Linked DNA regions of Homo sapiens: all the other regions are linked to region 1. Evidence: fine-mapped expression QTL. A gene starts in region 1. Each other region holds a variant in brackets. All regions are shown on one strand. Distances are from middle to middle.

The links.
Region 2: its variant is fine-mapped to the expression of EXD3 in whole blood (TOPMed, PIP above 0.99).
Region 3: its variant is fine-mapped to the expression of EXD3 in spleen (GTEx, PIP above 0.99). The same link has a PIP of 0.9 or more in pancreas and unexposed skin.
Region 4: its variant is fine-mapped to the expression of EXD3 in whole blood (TOPMed, PIP above 0.99).
Region 5: its variant is fine-mapped to the expression of EXD3 in whole blood (TOPMed, PIP above 0.99).
Region 6: its variant is fine-mapped to the expression of EXD3 in whole blood (TOPMed, PIP above 0.99).

What each region holds. Positions count from the first base shown.
Region 1 is chr9:137,421,011-137,425,092 of GRCh38, forward strand. It overlaps EXD3 (exonuclease 3'-5' domain containing 3), which reads right to left and starts at 2,152. Exons shown (of 22, transcript NM_017820.5): 1 at 2,104-2,152. NOXA1 (NADPH oxidase activator 1) reads left to right here and starts at 2,383. Exons shown (of 14, transcript NM_001256067.2): 1 at 2,383-2,696. The coding sequence starts at 2,520. It also overlaps the pseudogene LOC124902354. RefSeq lists silencers at 1,744-1,883, 1,894-2,033, 2,054-2,613.
Region 2 is chr9:137,350,370-137,354,446 of GRCh38, forward strand. EXD3 (exonuclease 3'-5' domain containing 3) reads right to left here. Exons shown (of 22, transcript NM_017820.5): 10 at 3,970-4,008; 11 at 2,251-2,417; 12 at 1,697-1,832; 13 at 949-1,159; 14 at 669-778. Among named protein-coding and RNA genes, the nearest start is that of NRARP, 50 kb to the left of the region's middle. RefSeq lists enhancers at 605-1,114, 1,115-1,623. The variant G/A (reference allele first, on the strand shown) is at 1,981.
Region 3 is chr9:137,378,494-137,382,575 of GRCh38, forward strand. All of the region lies in intron 3 of EXD3 (exonuclease 3'-5' domain containing 3), which reads right to left. Among named protein-coding and RNA genes, the nearest start is that of EXD3, 43 kb to the right of the region's middle. The variant T/C (reference allele first, on the strand shown) is at 2,435.
Region 4 is chr9:137,397,246-137,401,327 of GRCh38, forward strand. All of the region lies in intron 1 of EXD3 (exonuclease 3'-5' domain containing 3), which reads right to left. Among named protein-coding and RNA genes, the nearest start is that of EXD3, 24 kb to the right of the region's middle. The variant G/T (reference allele first, on the strand shown) is at 2,248.
Region 5 is chr9:137,368,261-137,372,342 of GRCh38, forward strand. The region is part of intron 5 of EXD3 (exonuclease 3'-5' domain containing 3); the gene reads right to left. Among named protein-coding and RNA genes, the nearest start is that of EXD3, 53 kb to the right of the region's middle. RefSeq lists an enhancer at 1-579 and silencers at 1,283-1,483, 1,965-2,154. The variant G/A (reference allele first, on the strand shown) is at 2,110.
Region 6 is chr9:137,385,976-137,390,057 of GRCh38, forward strand. All of the region lies in intron 2 of EXD3 (exonuclease 3'-5' domain containing 3), which reads right to left. Among named protein-coding and RNA genes, the nearest start is that of EXD3, 35 kb to the right of the region's middle. The variant T/C (reference allele first, on the strand shown) is at 2,287.

The sequences.
Region 1 (4,082 bases):
TCGCTATGTTGCCCAGGTTGGTCTCAAACTCCTGGGCTCAATGAATCCTCCCACCTTGGCCTCCCAAAGTGCTGGGATTACAGGCATGAGCCACCATGCCCAGCCCTCAAGTGGCTTTTAAAGGTCTATTCTGACCCTCTTGTAGTTCATAAGCATGATGATTGCCTCATGTGTAGGGTCTGTCTCCTTCAAACGCTGTTATGACGCCAGCACATTACCTGTCTGATGTGGGGAAAAAAAGTCTGAAATTCCTTATGGCAAAGTTCCAGCCAGTTTAGAAAGGAGCCTATATGGCCAATCACCACTGTTGTACTTTAGGCAAATAATCAGGCCAAATATAATCCTAAAATTTATTTTACAAGTAAATTGGTCTTACCAAGATTTATCTTTGGTAGAAATGGGGAAGTAGAGAAAAATTATGTTTCAGAGAAAAACTACAGCATACCTGTTACTGGATTCTAGCCCTGATCATTGTATTTTTTATTTTCCTACAATCTGGACTAAATCCTGAACAATCTTCTGGCTACAAGTCTCAAAGAAGAACCTGGCTGGGCAGAGGTTCACACCTATAACCCCAGCACTTTGGGAGGCCCAGATGAGAGGATCACTTGGGCTCAGGAGTTCGAGACTAGCCTGGGCAAGGTGTCAAGACCTAGTCTCTACCAAAAAAATTTAAAATTAGCCGGTCCTGGTGGCAAACACCTGTATTCCCAGGTACTCAGGAGGCTAAGACAAGAGGATCATTTAAGCCCAAGAGTTCAAGGCTGCGATGAGTGGGAATCGTGCCTCTGCACTCCAGCATGGGTGACAGAGCAAGACCCCATTTCTAAGTAAACAAATAAATAAAAAGAAAGAAGAACATGGATTTTAGTTTCTTCATGTTTTTAGTTGTCTCCCTAATGGAACAGGTTTGTTTTTTTCATCCTGGCATACAAATTGGTTATAGTCCTATGTGTTACTTCTGAGAAAATTAAAATTAATGGTGTTTCTAAAAACTAGAGATGATTCAACAGGTGACAGCAGTTGTATAAATTAATGACTTCACTGAGACCTCATGTTTGCCACCCTGTAATGCCATTCCAATTCAGTTTGTGGTGTTCTTAAAAAAAAAAAAAAAAAAAAAACTCCCTGAAATGTCTCCTCCTTCCCTGCTTGGCATGGGACAGGACTATGTGGGAATGAGCCTTCCCAGCAAGAGGGGACACTCTGACCCTCAGATTTTGATAATCAATGCTTTCAAGAAGAAAGATTTTGATCAAAAGGGGGGCAAATGAGAAAGAAAAAAATCATTTATCTGAGGAATGTAAAGCCCTTTTAAACTGTGGGCCCAGAAAGCTTGATGTTAAGTGCCAGAAAGCATTTCAAATGAAACCGCAGCCCCTCACTACCCCTCGAGCCAAGTAACTATCCACTGATGACACCAAGCCGTGGTCAATCGCGAACCAATGCCATTTCTACAAGCCAGTGAGCTCCTGGGCAACGTTCGAAACCACCTGCTCTCCGATGGGCTCTGTTTTCTTTAAAAACCTGAGCCTCTGTTTTGTTCTCCGTTGCACCTGGTGACCCAGGCCGCCCTCGACCTCTGTGCCTGAATAAACCCACCGGGCACCACATTCTGACCCTTTTAATTATTTTAGGTTGACAACTAATACAGGACTCAGCGCCGGTGGACAGGAAGCCAGGGCCCCTGCAGGGAGGCGCCCGTCCCTTCTCCCGGGGAGGGCAGGGCGGGCGCGCGCGCGTCCCACCGGGAGCGCCTCCTCCTCGGCGAGGGAGCGAAGGGCCTCCGGGTCCTGTGATGTCCGTGCTCGGAAGGCGCGGAGGAGGGCAGGCCCTGCGGGACAGGGCGGCGGGGTCGCCGGGGTCGGCTCAGCTCCCCGCGGCGTCCGGCTGCTCGGCGGCCTCCGGAGCGGGGCCCTGCGGGAGAACGCACCTTCCCCGCCCCATCGGGGCCTCAGTTTCCCCACCCCGGGAGAGCCGGCGGCCCGCCCCCGGCTCACTCCCAGCTACGGCCCTCACCTCAGGACGCGCACCCGGCCCGGCCCCGCTCTGCCCCCGGCGCCCAGACCGCCCACCTGGCCCGCGCGGCCCGGGGTCGCTCACCTGCGGGGCCGGGACCGCCCCACACCGTCCACGCCCGGCGCGGAACCTTGGCCCGACCGCAGCCGCTGGCCCGGAGGGCTTTATCCGGCGCACCAAGGCCAGCGCGGGCGGGGCGAGGAAGCCGGGCGCACAAAGCTCCCGGCGGAAGTCCGGCCGGGGCGGGGGCCGAATGGGAGGTGGGCGAGGCCTGAGGGTCTGGAGTGGGCGTAGCCGTTTCTGGCGGGGGCGTGGCCTTACCGGGGAGGGGCGGGCGCCTGCCGCCAGGGGGCGCCGCGGGGCAGCGGGGTTGCACCTGGCGCTTGGCGCCCGCACCTCTGCCCGCCTCGGAGACCCCGCAGCCCCGCGCCGCCGCCTGGCCCCGGCCCCGGCCCCTCCGCGGGATCCTGGCCCCTCCTCGAGCGCCGCCACCGGCCGCCATGGCCTCTCTGGGGGACCTGGTGCGCGCCTGGCACCTGGGCGCGCAGGCTGTGGATCGTGGGGACTGGGCCCGCGCCTTGCACCTCTTCTCGGGCGTCCCGGCGCCGCCCGCCAGGCTGTGCTTCAACGCGGGCTGCGTGCACCTGCTGGCCGGGGACCCCGAGGCCGCGCTGCGGGTGAGCGGGGCGTGGGGAGGCCGGTGCGGGCGACGCCTCCGCCTCGAGCCCCTGGGGAGGGCCCAGCGCCCCTCCCCGACCGTCACGGGGTCGCCCTGCCGCCCCCGACCCAGCGAACGCCCCGGCAGGTGGGAGCCGAGCAGGGGGGCCGCACCTGAGCTAAGCGAGGCCGCGCTGGGGGGCGCGGCGGTCACCGGGAGAGGCCGGGGCCCGAGGGTGACTCACACCGGGAAGGGGGAAGCTGCTGGGCTGGGTCAGGCCCGAGGGACCGCCCTGCCCTAAGGGGAAAGCGTTGCGCCTGTGGTCATGGCCGGGAGACCGGGTCAGTCTCCTCCTCAGAGCCCTCAGCCCTCCCCCAGCCCACTCCCCGAAACAGCCAGGAGTCCAGGGTGCCAGGGTGCAGCGGCCGAGGCCCTGCACGGAGCCCGGTGCCCTTCTCGTGCCCCCTCGCGTTCCGGGGCCGCCTGTTCCTGCGCATCCCAAACGCCAGCGCTGCCCACCCCCGCTCAGTCCCAAGCACCCCGCAGAAGCAGGCAGGTGCCCACGGTTACTGAAGGCTCGGTGACAGCAGTGATTTAAAGGAGAGGGAACTGCGCGCTGTGGGAGGGTCTCCACGCCCCTGACTGGCAAAATATCCCCCTTGGAGGAGACTGGGCAAAGCGCATGAGACCCCCCTCTCTTGTGTCTTAAAGCTGCGTACAAATTTACAATCACCTCCATAATGATTTCATTTTTTTGTTTGTTTCAAAGATGGAGTCTCGTTCTGTCACCCAGGCTGAATGGAGTGCCGTGGCCCAATCTTGGCTCACTGCAACCTCTGCCTCCCGGGTTCAAGCAATTCTCCTGCCTCAGCCTCCCTAGTTGCTGGGAGTACAGGCGCCCACTACCACGCCTGGCTAATTTAGTATTTTTAGTAGAAACGGGTTTCACCATGTTGGTCAGGCTGGTCTTGAACTCCTGACCTCAGGTGATCCACCCTCCTCGGCCACCCATAGTGGTGGGATTACACATGTGAGCCACCTTGTCCGGCCCACAATGATTTCATTTTAAAATGTTATCCAAGAAAGGGAATGTAATCTTTAGACACCAGGTGGTTCAGCAACAAATCCTATGTCCGGGGCTAACCCAGTCACTTGTGCTCTTGTGCCTGGTTTCACTACAGAGAGGGGACGCAGTGAAAGTCATACGACTAACCCACAGCATATGCATGTTAGGAATATGGGAACTTAGGAAAGCAGATGGAACAGCTATGATTCATAAAGCCGATCACGTGAGGGGCAGCCCAGGGTGCAGAGGGTGTCGCTGGAACTGCTGTCTCTTGTTAGGAGCCTTGCGTGACGTTTGGGGCAGACAGGTGGGTTCTGCTGGCCCTGAGCCGCCACCCCA
Region 2 (4,077 bases), 71 kb before region 1:
TAGATAGAGAGGGGTGGGGATCACGGGGAGGGGTTAGATAGAGAGGGGTGGGGATCACGGGGAAGGTTCTAGATAGAGAGGGGTGGGGATCACGGGGAGGGGGCTAGATAGAGAGGGGTGGGGATCACGGGGAAGGTTCTAGATAGAGAGGGGTGGGGATCACGGGGAAGGTTCTAGATAGAGAGGGGTGGGGATCACGGGGAAGGTGCTAGATAGAGAGGGGTGGGGATCACGGGGAGGGTTCTAGATAGAGAGGGGTGGGGATCACGGGGAGGGTTCTAGATAGAGAGGGGTGGGGATCACAAGGAGGGGGCTAGATAGAGAGGGGTGGGGATCACGGGGAGGGGGCTAGATAGAGCCCCAGGGGCTCCCTCCCGCAGCTCCTCCAAGTGGAACCCAGGGCTCAGGTCTGGGGGAAGGTGCCCTCACACCAGATAACGGCCCCACAGGGGCTCAGGGATGCCTGCACCAGGAGGCCCTGCTCCCTCCCTGGAGATGCCAGATCCAGCTCTGCCAGGCTCTGCTCTGGGGCCCTGGTGACTGAGGCTGTGCTGACAGGAATCCGGCGGGAGAAGCCCAGGGCCGCTGGGAAGGTGTGGAGGGGCCCCAAGCAGCCCTCGAACCCCAGGCCCACCCGGCATCTTGTGAGCGGCTCAGTGGGTGCCCACCTGTCTGTGCACCAGCAGCAGGTCCATGCCGCCCAGAATCTGCTTCTCCACATGGGCCAGGGCGGGGCAGGACGTGCCCAGTTTTTGCAGGTCCCCCACCATCCCGTAGCCTGTGGGCAGGAACCATCGTGGGAGGGGCGCCTGCAGGCAGGGACCGCACTGTCCCCTGACCCCAGGGTGCACCCAGCACCCTCCCCGGGGCACACGGAGGGAAGGGTCAGGCAGGGGTGCGGGCTGCTTTCTTTCTGGACTGGGCAGGGGGCCCCAGGGCTTCACTCACCCAGCTTGGTGATAGAGGGGTCCGAGAGGAGCTGGGCCACCAGCCGGGAAAAGGCCTGGGCTCCCTGCCCTGTTGGTGGCTGCGAGAGTGCCAGGACGTCCAGAAGGAACACGTGGCCCTCCACGGCCACCTGCAGGAGTGACGGCCGAGGCCGGCCCCCAGCAACAAACACAGGTGTCCACTCCACGTCTACACCAACCACTTGGTGGCACTGCGGGCAGAGAGGGGCAGATGTGATCATCAGGGCCAACTTGGCTCTGCAGGGACCACAGCCTGGAGGTCCTGAGCAGCTCTGTGAGCTTGGGCTTCGGGGAGACGCCCCTGCACCCCTGCATGTTTATAGGGCTGGGGCTGTTGGGGGCACTAAGGCCTGTGCTCCAGCTGCCCCCTGCTTTCTGTGGCTGCACCAGAGAGGGAGGCCTGGCTGTTGTGAGCAAGAGCCTGGCCTGGTGCCCACGGCAGTGCCCGTGTCAGGGAGGCACCCCACGTCTCGGGCACCATCTGTAAAATGGGGATTCCACGGCACCTTCCACAGGCTGGCAGCACTGGGTAAATGCCAGCAGCCAGCATCCTGGAGTCTCAGCAGCACAGTGTGGGGAACGGCTGCCCTCACAGCAGCCCTGGGGCACCTGGCGGGCTCATGCCCAGAGGCCTTGCCTCTCTCCGAATGCCATGCCCCTGATGCTCCTCCAGTGCCTGGCAGGGGGATCCCACCACCGGGCGCTGCCCCAGCGGCCGAGGGAACCACCTGCAGGAGTGCACCCTCGTGTCTGGTCAGGTCTTCCCACGAGGCCAGGAGGTGGACGTTCTCCCTGGGGATGGGCAGCTGGTAGTAACGGTCCTTCATGTCCTTCACCTCCAGCCTCGAGTCAGCCTCAGTCGCCCTGGGAGGAGCAGAGCTGGTAGCGCCCCCATGTCCCTGGTCCCCCACCCACTCTGACCTCGGAGCAGGAGGGGAGCATTCAGGGCCTGTTTGGTGGGGGCATCTCAGGTCCTGGCTCCTCCTCCCACACCGGCTCAGTCCAGCCCAGC[G/A]TGACCCTTGCTCCTGCCTCTCCTCCCAGTGGCCCTGGTGACTGTCCCCCCAGGGTCCCTCATGGGTCGGGCTGGCCATGGATCTGGCAGCAGAGGAGGAGGGCTGGGCCCTGCTGTCTTGTCTGCTCTGTGTATAGCTGCGCTCTTTGTTTTGTCTTGATTTCTAATTCTCAAGCCACTGGCGTGAAGACTGGTGAGCTGTCGTCCCAAGGGTAGGGGCCACCCTGGGCGGAACCCACCCCTGGCTGGGGTCACCCTGGCGGCGCTCACCTCCCCTGGAGCCTGAACCGGCGGAGTTCCACAGCCACCGCAGCCGGCAGCCGCTCCTCGGGCAGCAAGAGTTCCATGGCACACTGGGCGGCCGTGACTGGGTCACTGTGGGAGACCAGCAGCTGAGACAGCTGCTCCTGAAGCCACGGGCTCTGCCCCACCAGGCCCTGTGAGGAGGGTGGCCGTGAGGATGGAGATGGGGACATTGCTGTGCCACAGGGCCCTGCCCCGAGGGACCCCCGTAGACCCCGACCTTGCAGACTGGCTATGAGCACTCGGGGAGGAGGGGCAGCCGTCCACCTGAGGCCTGCAGCATCTGTCCTGCCTGAGGTCAAGGTTCCACAGGACCAAAGCGGCTGAGATAGAGGTGCTGAGGCAAAGGCTGTCCACCCCAGTGTAGCCCCGGCTGGCCTTCCGGGTCTCCAAGCCTGAGGTGAAGGCTGCCCACCTCAGTTCAGCCCCAGCTGGCCCCTCCTGGCCTCCAAGCCTCCGCTGACCTTCCCGGCCTCCAAGCCTCCACCGGCCCTCCTGGCCTCCAAGCCTCTGCTGACCTTCCTGGCCTCCAAGCCTCCACCAGCCCTCCTGGCCTCCAAGCCTCCACTGACCTTTCCAGCCTCCAAGCCTCCACTGGCCCTCCTGGCCTCCAAGCCTCCACTGACCTTCCCGGCCTCCAAGCCTCTGCCGGCCCTCCTGCTCTCACCAGGCATCTGCCCCCACCCCGGGTCCCAGGAGCCCGGGCATGTTTTCTGGAGCACCTGCCCAGCCTGCCCCATCTCCACGCTCCTCCTCTTGCCAGGGGAGCCCCTCTGCCCCTTCCCCTCCTCCTCATTATGTGGGGTTTGGCTGGCAGGGCTCAGGAGGCTATTGGGCACCCATTCACCCATGGCCCAGGAGCAGACAGAGGGGTGCCCTCTGGGTGGCAATGACCAAGGGGGTCCTGAGAAACCTCATCCTCACCAGGGTGAGCTCTCTCCCACCCCGCAGCCACCGTGGCAGCGCCCAGCCCAGGAGCAGAGGCACCTACAGGCCTGCGGGACCCTCAGCCCCCGCTGGGAAATGCAGGGCCCAGCACAAGCGAGGGTCTCCCTCCCCGCAAGGTCCTGGAGTCCATGGGTCCAGGATGGCCTTGAGTGTCAGGCGGGAAGGGAGGGGACCTGCCCAGCAGGCTGAGCTCCTGCACGACCTCCCACCCCACGGCCTCGAGGAGGGTCCGCCTGCCCCGCTGGCTTCAGGCCCAGCAGCCTGAGGCTGCTTCCCCGGCGTGGGTTCCCACGTGGACGACAATACGTGGAAGCCGCCCGCATTCTTCAGGACGTCCGCTGCCCTTCCGGCCGGCTCTGCGCTGGCACCGGGCTGGGGGGGCCTGGCCTTCCTCCTTCCGGCCTCGCCCAGGCGCCTTGCACCTCTCTGGTGACTCTCAGCCCCCACCCGGCCCCACAGGCAGCTCCGCTGGGTTGGTTCGGGTGGCACGGACGCTGCCGTCTGCCTGGAACGAGGCCCAGTCAGGCTCTACTGATGCCCTCGGCTCCCGCTCAGGCCTCCCGGGCCTGAGGACCCTACACCCGCCTGCCAGCCACACGCCCCAACATGGGGTCTGGGCTCAGCAGCCCCAGCGAAGGCCTCAGCTCTGCGCACTTCCACCAGGAGGCTCCGGGCCTGTGCCCCTAGGACAGCCGCCCAGGCCGCCCTGCCGGCTTACAGGCAAGGGCACGAACTCACCTGCACATGGTCGGTCCAGTTCTCCTGTGACAGGCTCTTCTGCAAAGGCAAACAGGAAGGGGCGGTTGCCAGGCAGCTCCAGAGGCTGTATCGGGGCCTGGTGGGAGT
Region 3 (4,082 bases), 43 kb before region 1:
AGCCACCACACCCGTCCTCCCCAAAGATTTAAAAACAGGGGCTCACGCAGATGTTTGTAGATGAATTTTCAGAGAAGTACTTATTTACAACGGCCAGAGGTGGAGATGGCGCAGATGACCCTCAGCTGTCTATGAAGAAACAGCATGTGGCCTGGCCACGTATTACTCAGCCACGGAAAAGGAGGAAGCTGACACAGACATCCACATAGACAAGCCTTGATATCGTGCTAAATGAAGAAGCAAGTCACAAAAGACCCCATGTTATGTGACCGCATGTGTGTGAACTGTCCAGAAGTGGCAAATCCAGAGGCAGAAAGCGGGTGAGCAGTGGCTAGGGCCTGTGTGACAAGGGGAATGGGGCGTCTGTGTGAGGGGTACAGGGTTTGTGGGTGACGGTGACCGTTGCCTGGGGCCGAGGGGAATGGGGCATCTGTGTGAGGGGTACGGGGTTTGTGGGTGACGGTGACCATTGCCTGGGGCCGAGGGGAATGGGGCATCTGTGTGAGGGGTACAAGGTTCGTGGGTGACGGTGACCGTTGCCTGGGGCCGAGGGGAATGGGGCGTCTGTGTGAGGGGTACGGGGTTTGTGGGTGACGGTGACCATTGCCTGTGGCCGAGGGGAATGGGGCATCTGTGTGAGGGGTACAGGGTTTGTGGGTGACGGTGACCGTTGCCTGGGGCCGAGGGGAATGGGGGCGTCTGTGTGAGGGGTACGGGGTTTGTGGGTGACGGTGACCGTTGCCTGGGGCCGAGGGGAATGGGGCGTCTGTGTGAGGGGTACGGGGTTTGTGGGTGACGGTGACCGTTGCCTGGGGCCGAGGGGAATGGGGGCGTCTGTGTGAGGGGTACAGGGTTTGCGGGTGACGGTGACCGTTGCCTGGGGCCGAGGGGAATGGGGGCGTCTGTGTGAGGGGTACGGGGTTTGTGGGTGACGGTGACCGTTGCCTGGGGCTGAGGGGAATGGGGCGTCTGTGTGAGGGGTACGGGGTTTGCGGGTGACGGTGACCGTTGCCTGGGGCCGAGGGGAATGGGGCGTCTGTGTGAGGGGTACGGGGTTTGCTTCTGAAGCGATGAACCATTCTGAAACCAGAAGAGGTGCACAGGTTGTGAAGATGTAGAAAGATTCACGAAGCACGACTGGGCGCTCCAGGCCATTGAGTCACTCATTGTGAAACGGCTGGTTTTATATGTCGTGCATCTTACCCCAATAAAGCATTCGATGAAGCCGACGCTCCGTGGCTCTGATTTGGGGTGCGCTCTCGCCCAGGCTGGTTTCTGTCACCCCCGGAGTTCTGCAGCACCCGTTCTAACCACAGCCCGCCTTCCCTCACTCCTGCTTCAGTCCCGTAAACCTTCTGCAAAATCCTGGCCCTCCAGACCCCAGCTGGGTCCTCCCCTCCAGGCCCCCAGTGGCAGCTGTGCCCCTTGTGTGCCCACGTCGGCCAGCGCAAGCCACACATGGACCCAGTGCCCACTGCACCCCTGCCAGCCTCAGGGTCCCAGCCCGTTGTTCCGGGAGACTTCAGTCCTGGCCCAGGCATCTCCTTCCAGCTCCTGTCCTTATCTTGGTGGCCTCAATGAACGTGCCAAGACCCTTGGGACCCATGGCTCTGAGACTGGGCTCCCCTTGCGCTGCCTGCCTCCCTCCCGGGGTCCCTGTGAAGGAAGCCGTCCCACCCACCCTGCCGGTCCCTCCTCCCTTCGAGCCCTTCACTGGTCTTCACTCCTCATTCCTGGTCCCCTCAGCTACAAAGAGCCTCCTGCTGTGCACGGAGAAAACAATGTGAGCTCCCCCACCCCAATGCCCCTCTGGGCGTCCCCCCCAATCCCCCTGCCAGTATCCCCCCCCACCCCAACCCCCGTCCGGGCATCCCCCTCAATCCTCCCGCCGGTATCCCCCCTCCTCCCCAACCCCCCTCCAGGCGTCCCCCCCAATCCCTCCGCCAGTATCCCCCGCACCCCAACCCCCCTCCGGGCATCCCCCCCAATCCCCCCACCGGTATCTCCCCCACCCCAACCCCCCTCTGGGCGTCCCCCCCGATAACGCCCACCAGTATCCCCCCTCTGGGCATCCCCCCCAATCCCTCCACTGGTTCCCCCCCACCCCAATGCCCCTCTGGGCATCCCCCCAATCCTCCCCACCCGTATCCCCCCTCCTCCCCAACCCCCCTCTGGGCATCCCCCCCAATCCCCCCGCCGGTATCCCCCTTCCTCCCTGCTGGCTGGCATCCCCTGCACTGAGCTGTTGGCTCCACTCACGGCTTCAGTAGTGGGGCTGGGGGGGTCCCATGGGCTCAGCAGCACCAGAAGGCCCCCCCGAGGGGCTGTTAGGATAGGACCACCCTGTTACAACAGGACCATCTTGGGAAGCCGAGGCAGGTGGATTGCTTGAGGTCAGGAGTTCAAGACCAGCCTGGCCAACATGGTGAAACCC[T/C]GTCTCTACTAAAAATACAAAAATAGCCAGGCGTGGTGTTGCACACCTATTAATCCCAGTTACTCATGAGGCTGAGGCAAGAGAATCACTTGAATCTGGGAGGCGGAGGTTACAGTGAGTCGAGATCATGCCACTGCACTCCAGCCTGGGTGACAGAGCAAGACTCTGTCTCACACACACACACACACACACACACGAAAAGCCTGGGTGCGGTGGCTCACACCTGTAATCCCAGCACTTTGGGAGGCCGAGGCGGGCGGATTACCTGAGGTCAGGAGTTCGAGAACAGCCTGGCCAACATGGTGAAACTCCGTCTCTACTAAAAATACAAAAAAAAAATTAGTCGGGCGTGGTGGCGCGCGCCTGTAATCCCAGCTACTCCGGAGGCTGAGGCAGGAGAATCCCTTGAACCCGGGAGGCGGAGCTTGCAGTGAGCCGAGATTGCACCACTGCACTCCAGCCTGGGTGACAGAACAAGACTCCTTCTCAAAAAAAAAAAAAAAAAAAAAAAAGACAGGAACACCCCACCACAGGCTGCTGGGCAGTGGGGCTGGGAAGGGCCCAATGAACCAGGGGAGCCCCACTCTGGGAGTGCGCCTACTCCAGGCCCTCACCCCGCCCCAGCCCTGCCTCCTCCTCCTGCCCGTCTCCCAGGCTGCTCTCACCCGCCCGGTGTGCTGGCTCCTCTCTCACGTTAGAGGAACACCTAAGCCCTCCCAGACGGCCAACAGTCCCATTGCCCCCTTTATACTGCAGACCGCCCCAAGGAGTTCTCCAAAATCCTGGTCTTCATCTCCCTCCTCTGGGGGCACCCGGCGTCTGTGCCACCATATGGGGGTCCCCAAGACCTCCATGTGCAGCCGGCTCTAGGGTTGGGCTTCTCCTCAGCACCCAGGACCCCCAAGGACCCCATCTTCAAGGCTCCTGGCCCACCCAGGGCCACTGGGCATGTGGCATTCGCCAGCTTGCTGGAATCCGGGAATGTGATGGAGGCGCGAGGAGGAGGTGAGAGCACGAGGAGGAGGTGAGGGCGCAGGGAGGAGGTGGGAGCACGCAGAGGAGGTGAGGACGCGGGGAGGAGGTGAGGACGCGGGGAGGAGGTGAGGGCGCGGGGAGGAGGTGAGGGCGCGCGGAGGAGGTGAGGGCGCGCGGTGGAGGTCAGGGCGGCGGTGGAGGTCAGGGCGGCGGTGGAGGTGAGGGCGCGGGGAGGAGGTGAGGGCGCGGGGAGGAGGTGGGAGCATGCGGAGGAGGTGAGGGCGCGCGGAGGAGGTGAGGGCACAGACACAGGCCCACCCCATGAAGATGAAATGCCTGACGGCCTCATGGCTGTCAGCGGAGCCCGGAGCAGATCTCAGCCCTGTCTGTGTATAAACAAGCGCTGCTCCAAGGAGACGCCAGGACGAATGTCAGGACATAGGGAGGAAAGGACAGTGGAATCCCACAACTCAGACACGTGGGGGGCGGGGGGCAGAGGGCGGGACCCGGGGAGGCTCACACCACACACGCAGGTGCCAAAGAGCGAGGAAGACTGAGCGTCACAGACGAAGGTCCGACAAGAGAGCCTGGAAATGGAACGGCAGAGGGAAATCTCAAAAGCAAGGACAGAGATTCACAAGCTGGAGGCCCAAGAAGCCACCGAGCTGATGGA
Region 4 (4,082 bases), 24 kb before region 1:
CCACGAAAGCCGGAGGACAGATCCAGACCAAGCCCGTGAAAGCTGGAGAAGGTTGAGTCCCACCCAGCTTAGGAGGCTTGAGAAAGGCCCTAGGCTCTCCGAAGAGCCCCTGACAAAACATCAAGACACAACCCCAAGTTCAAGGGACTCAGCCAGAAGCTGAACAGCCCACCGGAGCGAAAAACAATGCTCTTCAGAGGATGATACCTAAATCCAGAGTTTCCACAATGGATAATTCACGAAACTCAGCACGTAATAAAAATCACAAGACCTAAAAAGAAACAAGGAAATATGACCCATAAACAAGTGGAAAAACACAAAAAACAGAGAACAGAAAGCAACTTCGAGGAAGGCCTCAAAGTTATTGGTGTTAGCAAAGACTTTAACACAACGATTTCAACTGCGTTCACAGAATGAACAGAAAACATGTTCAAACAGTTCAAGGAGGCCGAGTGCAGTGTGGGAGGCTGAGGCGGGAGGATCACTTGAGCCCAGGAGTTTGAGACCATCCTAGGCAACATGGTCAAACTGTACAAAAAAATTAAAAAGTAGCCGGGTGTGGTGGCTCACGCCTTTGGTTCCAGCTACTCAGCAAGCGGAGGCAGAAGAGTCGCTGGAAGCCCAGAGATCAAGGCTGCAGTGAGCCGAGATCGCACCACTGCCTTCCAACCTGCATGACAGAGCGAGACCCTGTCTCAAGAAAACCCCAAAAAACCATGAATAAAGTTAAAAAATATGGTTTTAATGAGTAAAAGGAGAGAAATGAAGATTATATGAAACTACATAAAAGAGCTAAATGGAAACTCGGCAATAAAAAGTGTCATCACTGAAATGTGTTTGACTCAGTGGCTGTGCTTCACAGCAGGTGGATGGCAGATGAGTCAGTGAATCTGAAAACAGATCAAAGAAGGACCAGATTGAAAGAACGAGGGGGAAAGACAGAAGGAACTGTGGCTCCACGGTCCACAGCCGGGCGCCCTCTGTTCCCCTGGTGAACGGCCCCGTCTGCAGCACTGCACGCCTGGCTCTGGGGTTCACACGCTTTGTGGAGACACCCATTCCCCAGCCTCTGCCTGCCTCCGTCTGGATGGCTGCACTGCAGCCCTGCTCACCCTGGACCCCCTTCCCTCTTGTCCCCTGTGCTCCCCGAAGTTCACCTCCTAGTTCTAAGGGAGCACCTTTTCCAGGAGCACCTCAGGCAGAACCGCAAGGGAGGAGCACTGAGTAGCCCTTTGCTTGTCTGAGAACGTCCCCATGACACATGTGCACCCATGTCCCCAAGACACACAGGCAACCGCGTCCCCAAGACACACAGGCAACCGCGTCCCCAAGACACACAGGCAACCGCGTCCCCAAGACACACTGGCACCCGCGTCCCCAAGACACACAGGCACCCGCGTCCCCAAGACACACAGGCGACCGCGTCCCCAAGACACACAGGCACCCACGTCCCCGTGACACACGTGCACCCGCATCCCCAAGACACACAGGCACCCGCGTCCCCGAGACACACAGGCACCCGCGTCCCCGTGACACACAGGCACCCGCGTCCCCGTGACACACAGGCACCCGCGTCCCCGTGACACACGTGCACCCGCATCCCCAAGACACACAGGCACCCGCGTCCCCGTGACACACATGCACCCGCGTCCCCAAGACACACAGGCAACCGCGTCTCCGTGACACATGTGCACCCGCGTCCCCAAGACACATCCCCAAGACACACAGGCAACCATGTCCCCGTGACACGCGTCCAACATCCTCGTAACACGTGCACACCGACATCCCCGTGACATACACAGACTGTCCCTGTGGCACAGGCGCATCCACGTCCCCATGACACACGCACACTGCACCTCCACTGGAAGCCTGGCTGTGCGTGGCTGTGGGGCAGGGGTCATTCTCCTGACGGTCATGGTAACGCCCCTCTACTGTCTTCTAGCCTCAGGGGTTGCTGAGAAATCTGATGCCCCCTGACTCGAGTGCCAGCATCTTCTGGGGAGACCCCGGGGCCGTGGCCGGATCCCAGCAGGACGGACATGGTGTGGTCCCCTGGGGGCTCCGTGGCCACCCTTCTGCATGTGGCTTCCCGATGGTGTCCTGCCCTCCACGCCCTCAGTTCTGTCCTCAGGAACTCCTGCTGTTTAGAACTTACACTTCCTGAGAATTACTTTGTCTTCTCATCTTTCCTTCTCTGCCTTTTTGGGAGATTTCCTGAACTTTATTTTGCAACCCTCTCACTGAAAG[G/T]TTCATTTCTGCTATCACAAATTTAATACTATCCACGAGTTCTGGTTTTCTGAAGCTTTTTACAAGGGTCTCCTCTCTTATTCCTGGCTTCTCTTCCTAACCCCCATATTAGTTCATTTTCACGCTGCTGATAAAGACATACCTGAAACTGGGAACAAAAAGAGGTTTAATTGGACTTATGGTTCCACATGGCTGGGGAGGCTTCAGAATCATGGTGGGAGGCGAAAGGCGCTTCTTACATGGTGGTGGCAAGAGAAAATGAGAGCCGGGTACAGTGGCTCACTCCTGTAATGCCAGCACTTTGGGAGGCTGAGGCGGGCAGTTCACCTGAGGTCAGGAGTTCATGACCAGCCTGCCAACATGGCGAAACCCTGTCTTTACTAAAAATACAAAAAGCAGCCAGGCGTGGTGGTGGTGCCTCCCAGGTACTCAGGAGGCGGAGAAAGGCGAATCACTTGAACCTGGGAACAGGGGTTGCAGTGAGCTGAGACTGCACCATTGCACTCCAGCCTGGGTGACAGAGCAGAACTCCATCTCAAAAAAAAAAAAAAAAAAAGAAAATGAGGAAGAAGCAAAAGAGGAAACCTCTGATAAACCCGTCAGATCTCATGAGACTTACTCACTATCAGAAGAATAGCATGGGAAAAACTGGCCCCCATGATGTAATTACTCCCCCTGGGTCCCTCCCATAACGTGGGAATTCTGGGAGATACAATTCGGGTTGAGATTTGGGTGGGGACACAGCCAAACCACATCATTCCGTCCCGGCCCCTCCAAATCTCACGTCCTCACATTTCAAAACCAATCATGCCTTCCCAACAGTCCCTCAAAGTCTCAACTGATTTCAGCATTAACCCAAAAGTCCACAGTCCAAAGTCTGATCTGAGACAAGGCAAGTCTCTTCCGCCTATGAGCCTGTAAAATCAAAAGCAAGTTAGTTACTTCCTAGATACAATGGGGGTACAGGTATTCAGTACATACAGCCATTCTGGGCCGGGCATGGTGGCTCATTCTTATAATCCCAGCACTTTGGGAGGCCGAGGAGGGTGGATCACCTGAGGTCGGGAGTTTGAGACCAGCCTGACCAACATGGAGAAACCCTGTCTCTACTACAAATACAAAATTAGCCGGGCGTGGTGGCACCCACCTATAGTCCCAGCTACTTGGGAGGCTGAGGCAGGAGAATCACTCGAACCTGGGAGGTGGAGGTTGCAATGAGCCGAGATCGCGCCATTGCACTCCAGCCTGGGCAACAGAGCGAGACTCCATCTCAAAAAAAAAAAAAAGTTCCAAATGGGAGAAATTGGACAAAACAAAGGGATTACAGGGCCCACGCAAGTCTGAAATCCAGAAGGGCAGTCAAATTTTAAAGCTCCAAAATGATCTCCTTTGACTCCAGGTCTCACATCCAGGTCATGCTGATGCAAGAGGTGGGTTCCCATGGTCTTGGGCAGCTCCACCCCTGTGACTCTGCATGGTACAGCCTCCCTCCCAGCTGCTTTCACAGGTGGTGTTGAGTGTCTGCTGCTTTTCCAGGCACATGGTGCAGGCTGTCGGTGGATCTACCATTCTGGCATCTGGATGACAGTGGCCTGCTTCTCACAGTCCCACTAGGCAGTGTCCCAGTAGGGACTCTGTGTGGGGGCTCCCACCCATTTCCTTTTTTTTTTTTTTTTTTTGAGATGGTGTCTCACTCTGTTGCCCAGGCTGGAGTGCAGTGGCGCGATCTCAGCTCACTGCAAGCTCCACCTCCCGGGTTCACACCATTCTCCTGCCTCAGCCTCCCAAGTAGCTGGGACAACAGATGCCCGCCACCACACCCGACTAAATATTTT
Region 5 (4,082 bases), 53 kb before region 1:
CCACACAGCCTGGGTCCCAGGGCCTTGCTCGGGGATTGCTGATGAGCCAGAGGAAGGCTAGGAGGTGGGGTCAAGGCAAGGCGCAAAGCCGTGACCTCCCACACGACCCATCTGCGGGCCCCAGAACACAATGGTGCCTGCAGTGGACGGGCCAAGGCTGAGGACCCCCAGCCTCAGCGCATCCTGAGGCCTGGGGGGTCCTAGCCCTTCCCACGAGGCGGAGACGGGCACCCCGCGAGCGCTCCAAGGCCACACTGGCTGCGATCGGGGCACGGCCGGGCCCTGACCGCCTGCACGTACCACGGGCCTGAGCTGCTATTAATAATTTCCATAAGCCGCGCTCCCATAGCCAGCAAAAATGACCCACGAGAGCAGCCCGCGGAGCATCGGCGCCCCGCCCCCGCGCAGCCCAGAGAAAGGACCAAAATAGCGGCCTGGGAAAGCCTCGAGCCGGCTTCCAGCCCCGGTGCGCAGGGTGGGGGCGCAGGGCCGGGGGCCTTTCCCTGCGCAGCGCTGACCCGGCGCCTCTACTGTCTGGCCAGGGTCCAAGAGGCTAGGCCTCCACCAGGCCCATGGGGCGCAGGGCCCGGGGCGGGGGTCTCAGGGCCGTGGGGAGGGGCGAAGGTCCGGGGCGGGGCCCCAGGGCTGTGGGCAGGGGCGCCTGGCCCGGGAAGGGAGTCTCAGGCCCGTGAGGAGGGGCACAGGGCCGGGGGACGGGGTGCAGTGCCCGGGGCGGGGTGGGGGGGCTTCTCAGAGCCGTGTGGGGAGGGGCGCAGGGTCAGGGGAAGGGACGCAGGACCCGGGGAGGGGGTCTCAGGGCCGTGGGGAGGGGCGCAGGGCCCGGGGCGTGGGAGTCTCGGAGTCGTGGGGAGGGGCGCAGGGCCGGGGCGGGGCCTCAGGGCCGTGGGAAGGGGCGCAGGGCCGGGGAGGGGCACGGGGCCACCACATGGGGAGGGGCGCAGGGCCTGGGAGGTGGGCTTACGGCTGTGAGCATGGGCGCAGGGGCCACCACATGGGGACCACCCCAGCAGTGACACCCGCAGCTTCACACAAGGGCTCTGATCCCTTCTGGATCAGGGACCCCCTGAGAAGCTGCCAGAGCTCCGGAAGGCAGGGGTGCAGGGCCGGACACCTCACCCCGTTCAGAACCGCAGGGTGGTCACAACCCGCCCGCCCTCTGCTCCTCCTGCCGCATGTGGTTATTGTCAGGTGCAGGGAAGTGGAGGATGGGGCTGCGCCCGGCACCTCCTTGGGACCAGGCCCTGAGCAGGTGACGCTGGGACCAGGGAGGCTGGGGACACAGCAAGGGGCAGGTGGCCAGGGCCTTCCCTCACCGCTGCTGTCCCCAGCCTCCCTCCGAGGGACAGACTTCAGGCTCCAGTCCCAGCCCTCGGCGGGCCCCACCCAACCAGGAACCCCTCTGAGCCCAAGAAGGCCGCCTCAGGCTTGCAGAGGAGCCTGGGTGGGGCTGGGTACTGGCCGTGCTCCCCAGGTGGGTGGCTTCTGCCTCTGTGTCCCGCACGCTGCGACCCCGTCAGAGGCAGTTCAAAGTGCCCAGCTCAGCCCTTCTCTTCACCACGGCCATTCAGAGCCCAGGGCTAACAGGTGTCTGGACCTTTCTTTCTAGGCCCACAGAAGCTCTCTGGGCACCCGGGGCCTCTTGAGGCCAGGTGGGCTTTCTGGACATGCAGGCGTCCTGGGGCCCCCAGCATCTGTGTCCACATTTTGTACCCGGAGCCCAGTGGGGGCTCTGTGGCCTCGCAGCTTGGGGGACAGGACGAGGATGGAGCTCCCCTAGCTCCACCCTGGTAAGGGCAGAGCCCAGGCTTGCTCATGGGCAGCCCTGGTGACAGGGGTGGGGGGCTGGGGGGTGGCTAGTAGCAGACCCACCCCTTCCAGGAAGCTCCCTGGCCTGACCCCTGTCTCAGGCTTTGGGGGCCCTGCTGGCCCTTTCACTGTGGTGGTGCCTGGCTTAGAATCAGCGTCTGGTCATTTCTGTCTGAACTTCCCTGAGAGGACGGTGTACAGCTGCCCACTGTCCATGCCTGGCCACTTGGGAAACTCAGCAGGCACAAAAAGGTCACCTGGCCCCAGAGCCAGGCCCAGGGA[G/A]CAGACAGCAGAAGGTGAAGAGTCCTGGACCCCGTGGGAGGAACGAGCCCGGGGCTGGGCCATGAGGACAGATGGGGCAAACTGGGCCCCTCTGCACCAGGCAGACCTTCCCGACCTCTGCTGCCAGAGGATGGGAGGCATCCACCAGGAAGAGAGAGACGAGGCTGTCCAGCTGGCGGGGTCGGGGTGGGGCTGTAGAAACCTCTAGACAGGCCCAGGAGCTGCTGCTTTCAGGAAAAAAAAAAAAAAAAGAAAATCAGGAGGGGCTGTGGTATCGACCATCGGGAAGGGCATTCCCCGGCTCCCCTGGGCCCCCCATTCTAAGGGGCAGGAAGGCTGGGCAGGTGCCCAGGCTCGAAGGCCGAGGACCCCAGCGACAGCCCTGCCTCCCACCTCTGCGTGGGCCTGGAGCCAAGAGGGCCTTTTTTTTTTTTTTTTTTTTAAAGCAAAGCTATCTTTTTACCTTGATAAGCTGTTTAAAAAATGTAAATAAAATAACTCAGCGGACAAAAGCAGGCATTCATCCTGCCCAGGGCCAGCCGCTGCCCTCGACATGAAATATCGCAGCACATTGAGTCGTGAGTCCCAGCTAATCCGAGCGGACAGGCCTGAATGCGGCCTCTTTCGGCCGGGCGCGGCGGTGAGCAGTGGAGCATGCATCGCCTGCCGGGCGGCCCCGCTCGGGGACAATGGCTTTCTTCGCAGAAGGGGCCTGTGCGGGACAAGACCCCCTTTGTGTGGGGATTCCTGCCTCGGAGCGCGAGGGAGGCGCATTCAGCCGGCCCCAGACAGTCTTTGAAAGGCTCTGTAACAGAAGACGGCCCGAAACACTAGCCTGCCTTCTGCCTCCCTGCACTCTCCGCAGGCACGGCCGCCATTCAGCGTCGCGCCACATGAGGGGGACCCTCCATCCTGCATTGTCCTGTGCCGGGACATGGTGGCTTCTCAGCGCCATGCACCCGCCGCGAGACGACGGCCCCGGGCGTGGCAGGTGACAGCGCCAGGGGTGGGGCCCGCGCGGCCCACACAGGGGACACTCCTGTGAGGGCCCGGCCAGGGCAGCCCCCGATGCCCGTGCCCAGGTTCCAATGCACCTCCTCACGGTGAGGGGTCTTGCTGGGAAGAGGAACCCAGGGTGCCATCGGGACGGCGTCTCAGCAGCAGGGTCCCACGTGGGCAGGCAGCGGGGTGGTGGCCTTCACGCTCGGCCCTGAAGTAAGGGGGCCCTAATGGGGCGGGGAGTGGACCAGTGCCCCTGAGTGCCGGCCTCCTCATACATGATCAGTGCACCCTGAGCTGAGCACCCCCAGGCCAGGCACCCCCGGGGCTGGGCACCCCCAGGCAGGACACCCCTGGGCCAAGCACCCCCGGGCCGAGCACCCCCAAGCAGGACATCCCCTGGCAGGACACCCCCGGGCTTCTTTGCCGCACCTCGTGCTGCACCCTAGAATCTGCACTGGGATCTGGAATCTCAGGGCACCGAGAAGTCATGGGGGCTCCCCTGCACCTGCAGGAACAGCTCAGAGCCACCCCACGCAAGACGGCCGCCTCCCTACCCACTGCAGGCCCCACTGCTCCCTACTGTTCCACACAAACCCAAGTCACAGCTTGGCCAGGCTCAGGACGACGGGGCTGTGATGCTAGACCTGGTCTTCCTCTTGGAACCTTCTGGGCTTAAAAATCAGCCTTGTTCACAAAGGAGACTCAGCAAACCACTGTGATTCCAACAGCTCCACCAATTCTCATCCAGACACCTTTAGCTGCCAAGCCCACACTTCTGCGACACCACTTAAGACCTGGCCCGGGACCGAAAGGGACCGAAGCCACCTCTCCCGCCAGCAGCCAGTGAAGGGTTGGATACTGATCCGACGCATCTCGCACCTGGGCGACTGTGCCGAGGTGCGACTGGTGCCCTGGCCCTGAACCTTGTCCTGTGTCCCAGGCGCCGGCACTGCCCACTCTGGGCTTCTGTG
Region 6 (4,082 bases), 35 kb before region 1:
TGTTATGTATATTTCACATATTTTTAAAAGCAGGGTGAAGCTGGGCAAGGTGGCTTACACTTGTAATCCCAGCACTTTGGGAGGCTGAGGTGGGTGGGTCGCTTGAGCCCTGGAGTTTGAGACCAGCCTGGGCAAGACAGCAAGACCCCATCTCTACCAAAATAAATAAAATTAGCTGGGCATGGTGGCGCTCCTGAGGTCCCAGCCACTTGGGAGGCTGGGGTGGGAGCATGGCTGGAGCCTGGGAGGTTGAGGCTGCAGTGAGCCCTGATTGTGCCACTGCCCTCCAGCCTGGGGGACAGAGTGAGAACCTGTCAATCAATCCATCCATCAATAAGCAGGGTGTCCTTATTATTCTTTTTAAGTTCTCCAAATCGAGATCCACCTTTCCAGGTGGGAAGTTGGTGATGCCGGCCCTCCTACTCCCCAGTCAGTGTTGCTGGTCTTTGCCCTGCTCAGGTCCTGCTGGTTCTGCCCTCCAGGTGGGCAGGGTCTGCCCCCTCCCACCGACCTGGGCCACTCCAGATTCCCAGGGGACTCCCTGCCTTGACGCTGTGCCCTCAGACAACACCCAGCCGCGCAACACGGCACAGCCCTAGCATCCTACAGAAATATGGGGCAGGCCAGGCCACTTTATGGACTCCACCGTGGCCCCTCAGCCTTGAGAGTCAAAGCCAGGGCCCACCACATCCTCCCAGCCTCCAACCTCCGTGTACCTGGACCCTGCCCCTTGGGCCTGAGGCTGCTTCTCGAGCACCCAGCAGCCTGCCCGGAAGCCCCCTCAGCACCCCTGCTCCCTGCCTGCCTCCCTCAGCACCCCTGCTCCCTGCCTGGCCCCCTCAGCACACCTGCTCCCTGCCTGCCTCCCTCAGCACCCCTGCTCCCTGCCTGGCCCCCTCAGCACCCCTGCTCCCTGCCTGGCCCCCTCAGCACCCCTGCTCCCTGCCTGCCTCCCTCAGCACCCCTGCTCCCTGCCTGCCTCCCTCAGCACCCCTGCTCCCTGCCTGCCTCCCTCAGCACCCCCGCTCCCTGCCTGGCCCCCTCAGCACCCCTGCTCCCTGCCTGCCTCCCTCAGCACCCCTGCTCCGTGCTTGGCCCCCGGCCCTTGCTTCCTGCCTGGCCCCCGGCCCCTACTCCTTGTCTGCCTCCCTCAGCGCCTCTGTTCCCTGCCTGGCCCTCGGCCCCCGCTCCCTGCCTGGCCCCCGGCCCCTGCCCTTCTGCCCCTGTCGCTTCACTGTGGCCTCAACGCTGAGCCCCAGGGCAGTGACCGCCTGGGTCTCCTTCCAGGCCATGGCCGGTGCACGATGGACACTCCACGGTGCCCGCCCCAGCCATTCCAGGGCCAGCCGTGCACACATGGTGCTCACAGCCCACGCAACTGGGGAGCCCTGGGGAGCCCTGAGTCTCTCGGGCCAGAGCTGGAGGGACCCATGGCAGGTGTGGCGGGACAAGTGTCTGCCGTGCCGGGCTCAGACACGGCCATGCTGACACTCATCCCACACAATTGCTGGCTTCCTGTTCATACAACAGAAGAAAAACAGGATGTCCAGGGGCGGCTTCTGTCTGAACGAAGAAGACAAGCGAGCTCTGTGAGCCCCAGGGCTCAGCAGTGAGAGGACAGGGTGCCTGGGAGAGCCCTGGGGGACACACCCCACTCAGCACACAGCACCCCACGCACCCCAACTCAGGGATACCACGCAGGGGCACGGGGTCCGAGAAGGGCGGGTGGGGCTTGGAGCTGACACCGAGGGACCTCCCAGACCCGCTCTCCGGCCCCAGAAGCCCCAGCCAGCCCTCCCTGAGGTCGCCTCCTCGTGCAGTAGCTTCTGGGGGCCTTTGGTCCCCAGCGTGGATGTTTGGCCGGAGCTCCGTGGGTGGCCTCTGGCCCCCACCTCCACACCCAGGCCCAAGTTCCCTGAATTCGCCAAGTTCATCAGTGCTGCACCGATGCCTGGGACCTGCAGACAGGCAGGTCTAGGACGCTGAGACAGATGGCCCTGGCCAGGAGGCTGGGCCCTGACCCTGGACCCTGCCCCTTGGAACCATGTGGGTGGGGGCAGAGCGGGGCAGCTGTGTATTAGGAGGACACCTAGAAAAAACTCAAGCTCAAGAATAAAAGTCCCACAGTCCCCCGAATGTGGATTCACATCCAAGAGCTGGGCTGCTTCTCTCTGGGGGGCTGAATCATGGTCCCTGCCCAGCACCAGAGCCTGGTGCCCACACTGGCTTCCCCCCCAGCCACCCTCCCCAAAACGTGCCTGGGAGGGCTCAGGAACTCTGTGGGGT[T/C]GGCCTGAGGGTGTCCAGGCAGAGGCGGCCAGGACGGCTCCACCATCTGTCCCCAGGACGGCTCCCCAGCTGACACCCCCGCGCCGGCCGACGGGAGGACGGATGGTTGCAGGGACGCAGGATGGGCAGAACACAGGGACGCCACTTCCTCCAAACGACACCCGGCTAATGGGGCTGCCTTCACCTTGAGACACAGACGCACGCGGGAAACTGTGGGCTGTGGAGTGGGTGGCGCCGAAGGCTCTGTTATTCCCGACACTCTACCATAAAGCGGGGATGAGAAACACAGGGGGCTTTTTATCCACAGGGTTGGGGGCACAGAAGCCCCAGGAACTGAGGCCGACCCCAGCAGCGGGCGCCAGGCAGAGGACACCAGGCAGCGGATGCTGGCAGGGGACACCCGGCCTCCAGGCAGGAAGTCTGTGACGTGGTCTTCACAAAGCCCCCGAGTGGGTCTCCCCGGCAGCTGGCTCTCCTCTTGGGGCCTGGGTCACAAAGCTCACAGCCCGTCTCCAAGGCCGTCCCACACCTGCCAGCAGCATCAGACCCCGCGGCAGTGAGTGTAGAAGAGCCCGGCCGCCCAGACCAGACCCCACGCGCTGTGGTGACCTGCATGTCCACGGGTCCAGGCACCTGCTATCAGCACAGCACCCCGCCTGGGTCAGTCCTCTGACCGCCCACGGACAGCAGAAAGGGCCAGCCCACGGCCTCAGCTCCCCTCAGAGACCCCATGGCACCTCCCGCAGGCGTGTCCTGAGAGGCCACGCCCACCCACCACGCACTGGGGCCTCCGTCCCTCTGCCACGAGTCTGTCTCCTGGTGGCCTTCTGGCGTCCGGGGGCAGCTGAGATGGGGCCACCCCCTCCAGCCCAACCGTCTCTGGTCTCAGATTCCACCCACATCTGCCTGTGCTCAGCTGCAGGCAGGGCGGGGGACGTGATAAGGACAGAGGCGGCAACGAGACCCCAAGCCCGGCGGACAGCGTGTGCCCTCCACCTCGGCTCGCCGCAGAGGACCGCCCGTGTCTGGGGAGTGAGGTGAAGGGGCTCCCGGAGGTCCAGCATCTGGCACGGAGCCCCTTGCTCTATCAACACAGCGGCCCACAACCCCAGCACAGCACCGTCTCTCATCGGTCATGGGTCCCCTCACCCTCAGTCCTACTCACTTGCCTCATCCATGAAGCCGAGGGCCTTGGAGACAGAACCTGACCCAGCCTAAGCCCAAGCTGCCTCTGCTGGGAAAGCGGGATGAGGGGGAGAGCCCACCGTTCGATGCTGTGGACCCCACAAGGAGGCAGAGAGGGAAAGGGCGGTACCAGCTCAGGGGGCATGAGGCGGACGCCACTCAGAGACAGTGAGTACGTCGAGGTGCTGGGACGCTCGGAGCGAGAGGGACAGAGAGGGACAGTGAGACCAGCAAGGAGCTGGGACGCTGGGAGCCAGGTGGATGCATGCAGAGAGGGACAGAGAGATCCCCAAATTTCATTCTGCAACCGCAGGTCAGAAAATCTGCTGAAGAAAAGATCCTACCTACAACAGAAATATTGGAAGATGAAATGCCTATTTTTAAAAAGTAACAGACCCGGCACAGTGGCTCATGCCTGTAATCCCAGCACTTTGGGAGGCCGAGGCGGGCAGATCACCTGAGGTCAGGAGTTCGAGACCAGCCTGGCCAACATGGCGAAACCCCGTCTCTACTAAAAATACAAAAATTACCCAAGCATGGTGGTGGGTGCCTGTAATCCCAGCTACTCAGGAAGCTGAGGCAGGAGAATCACTTGAACCTGGGAGGTGGAG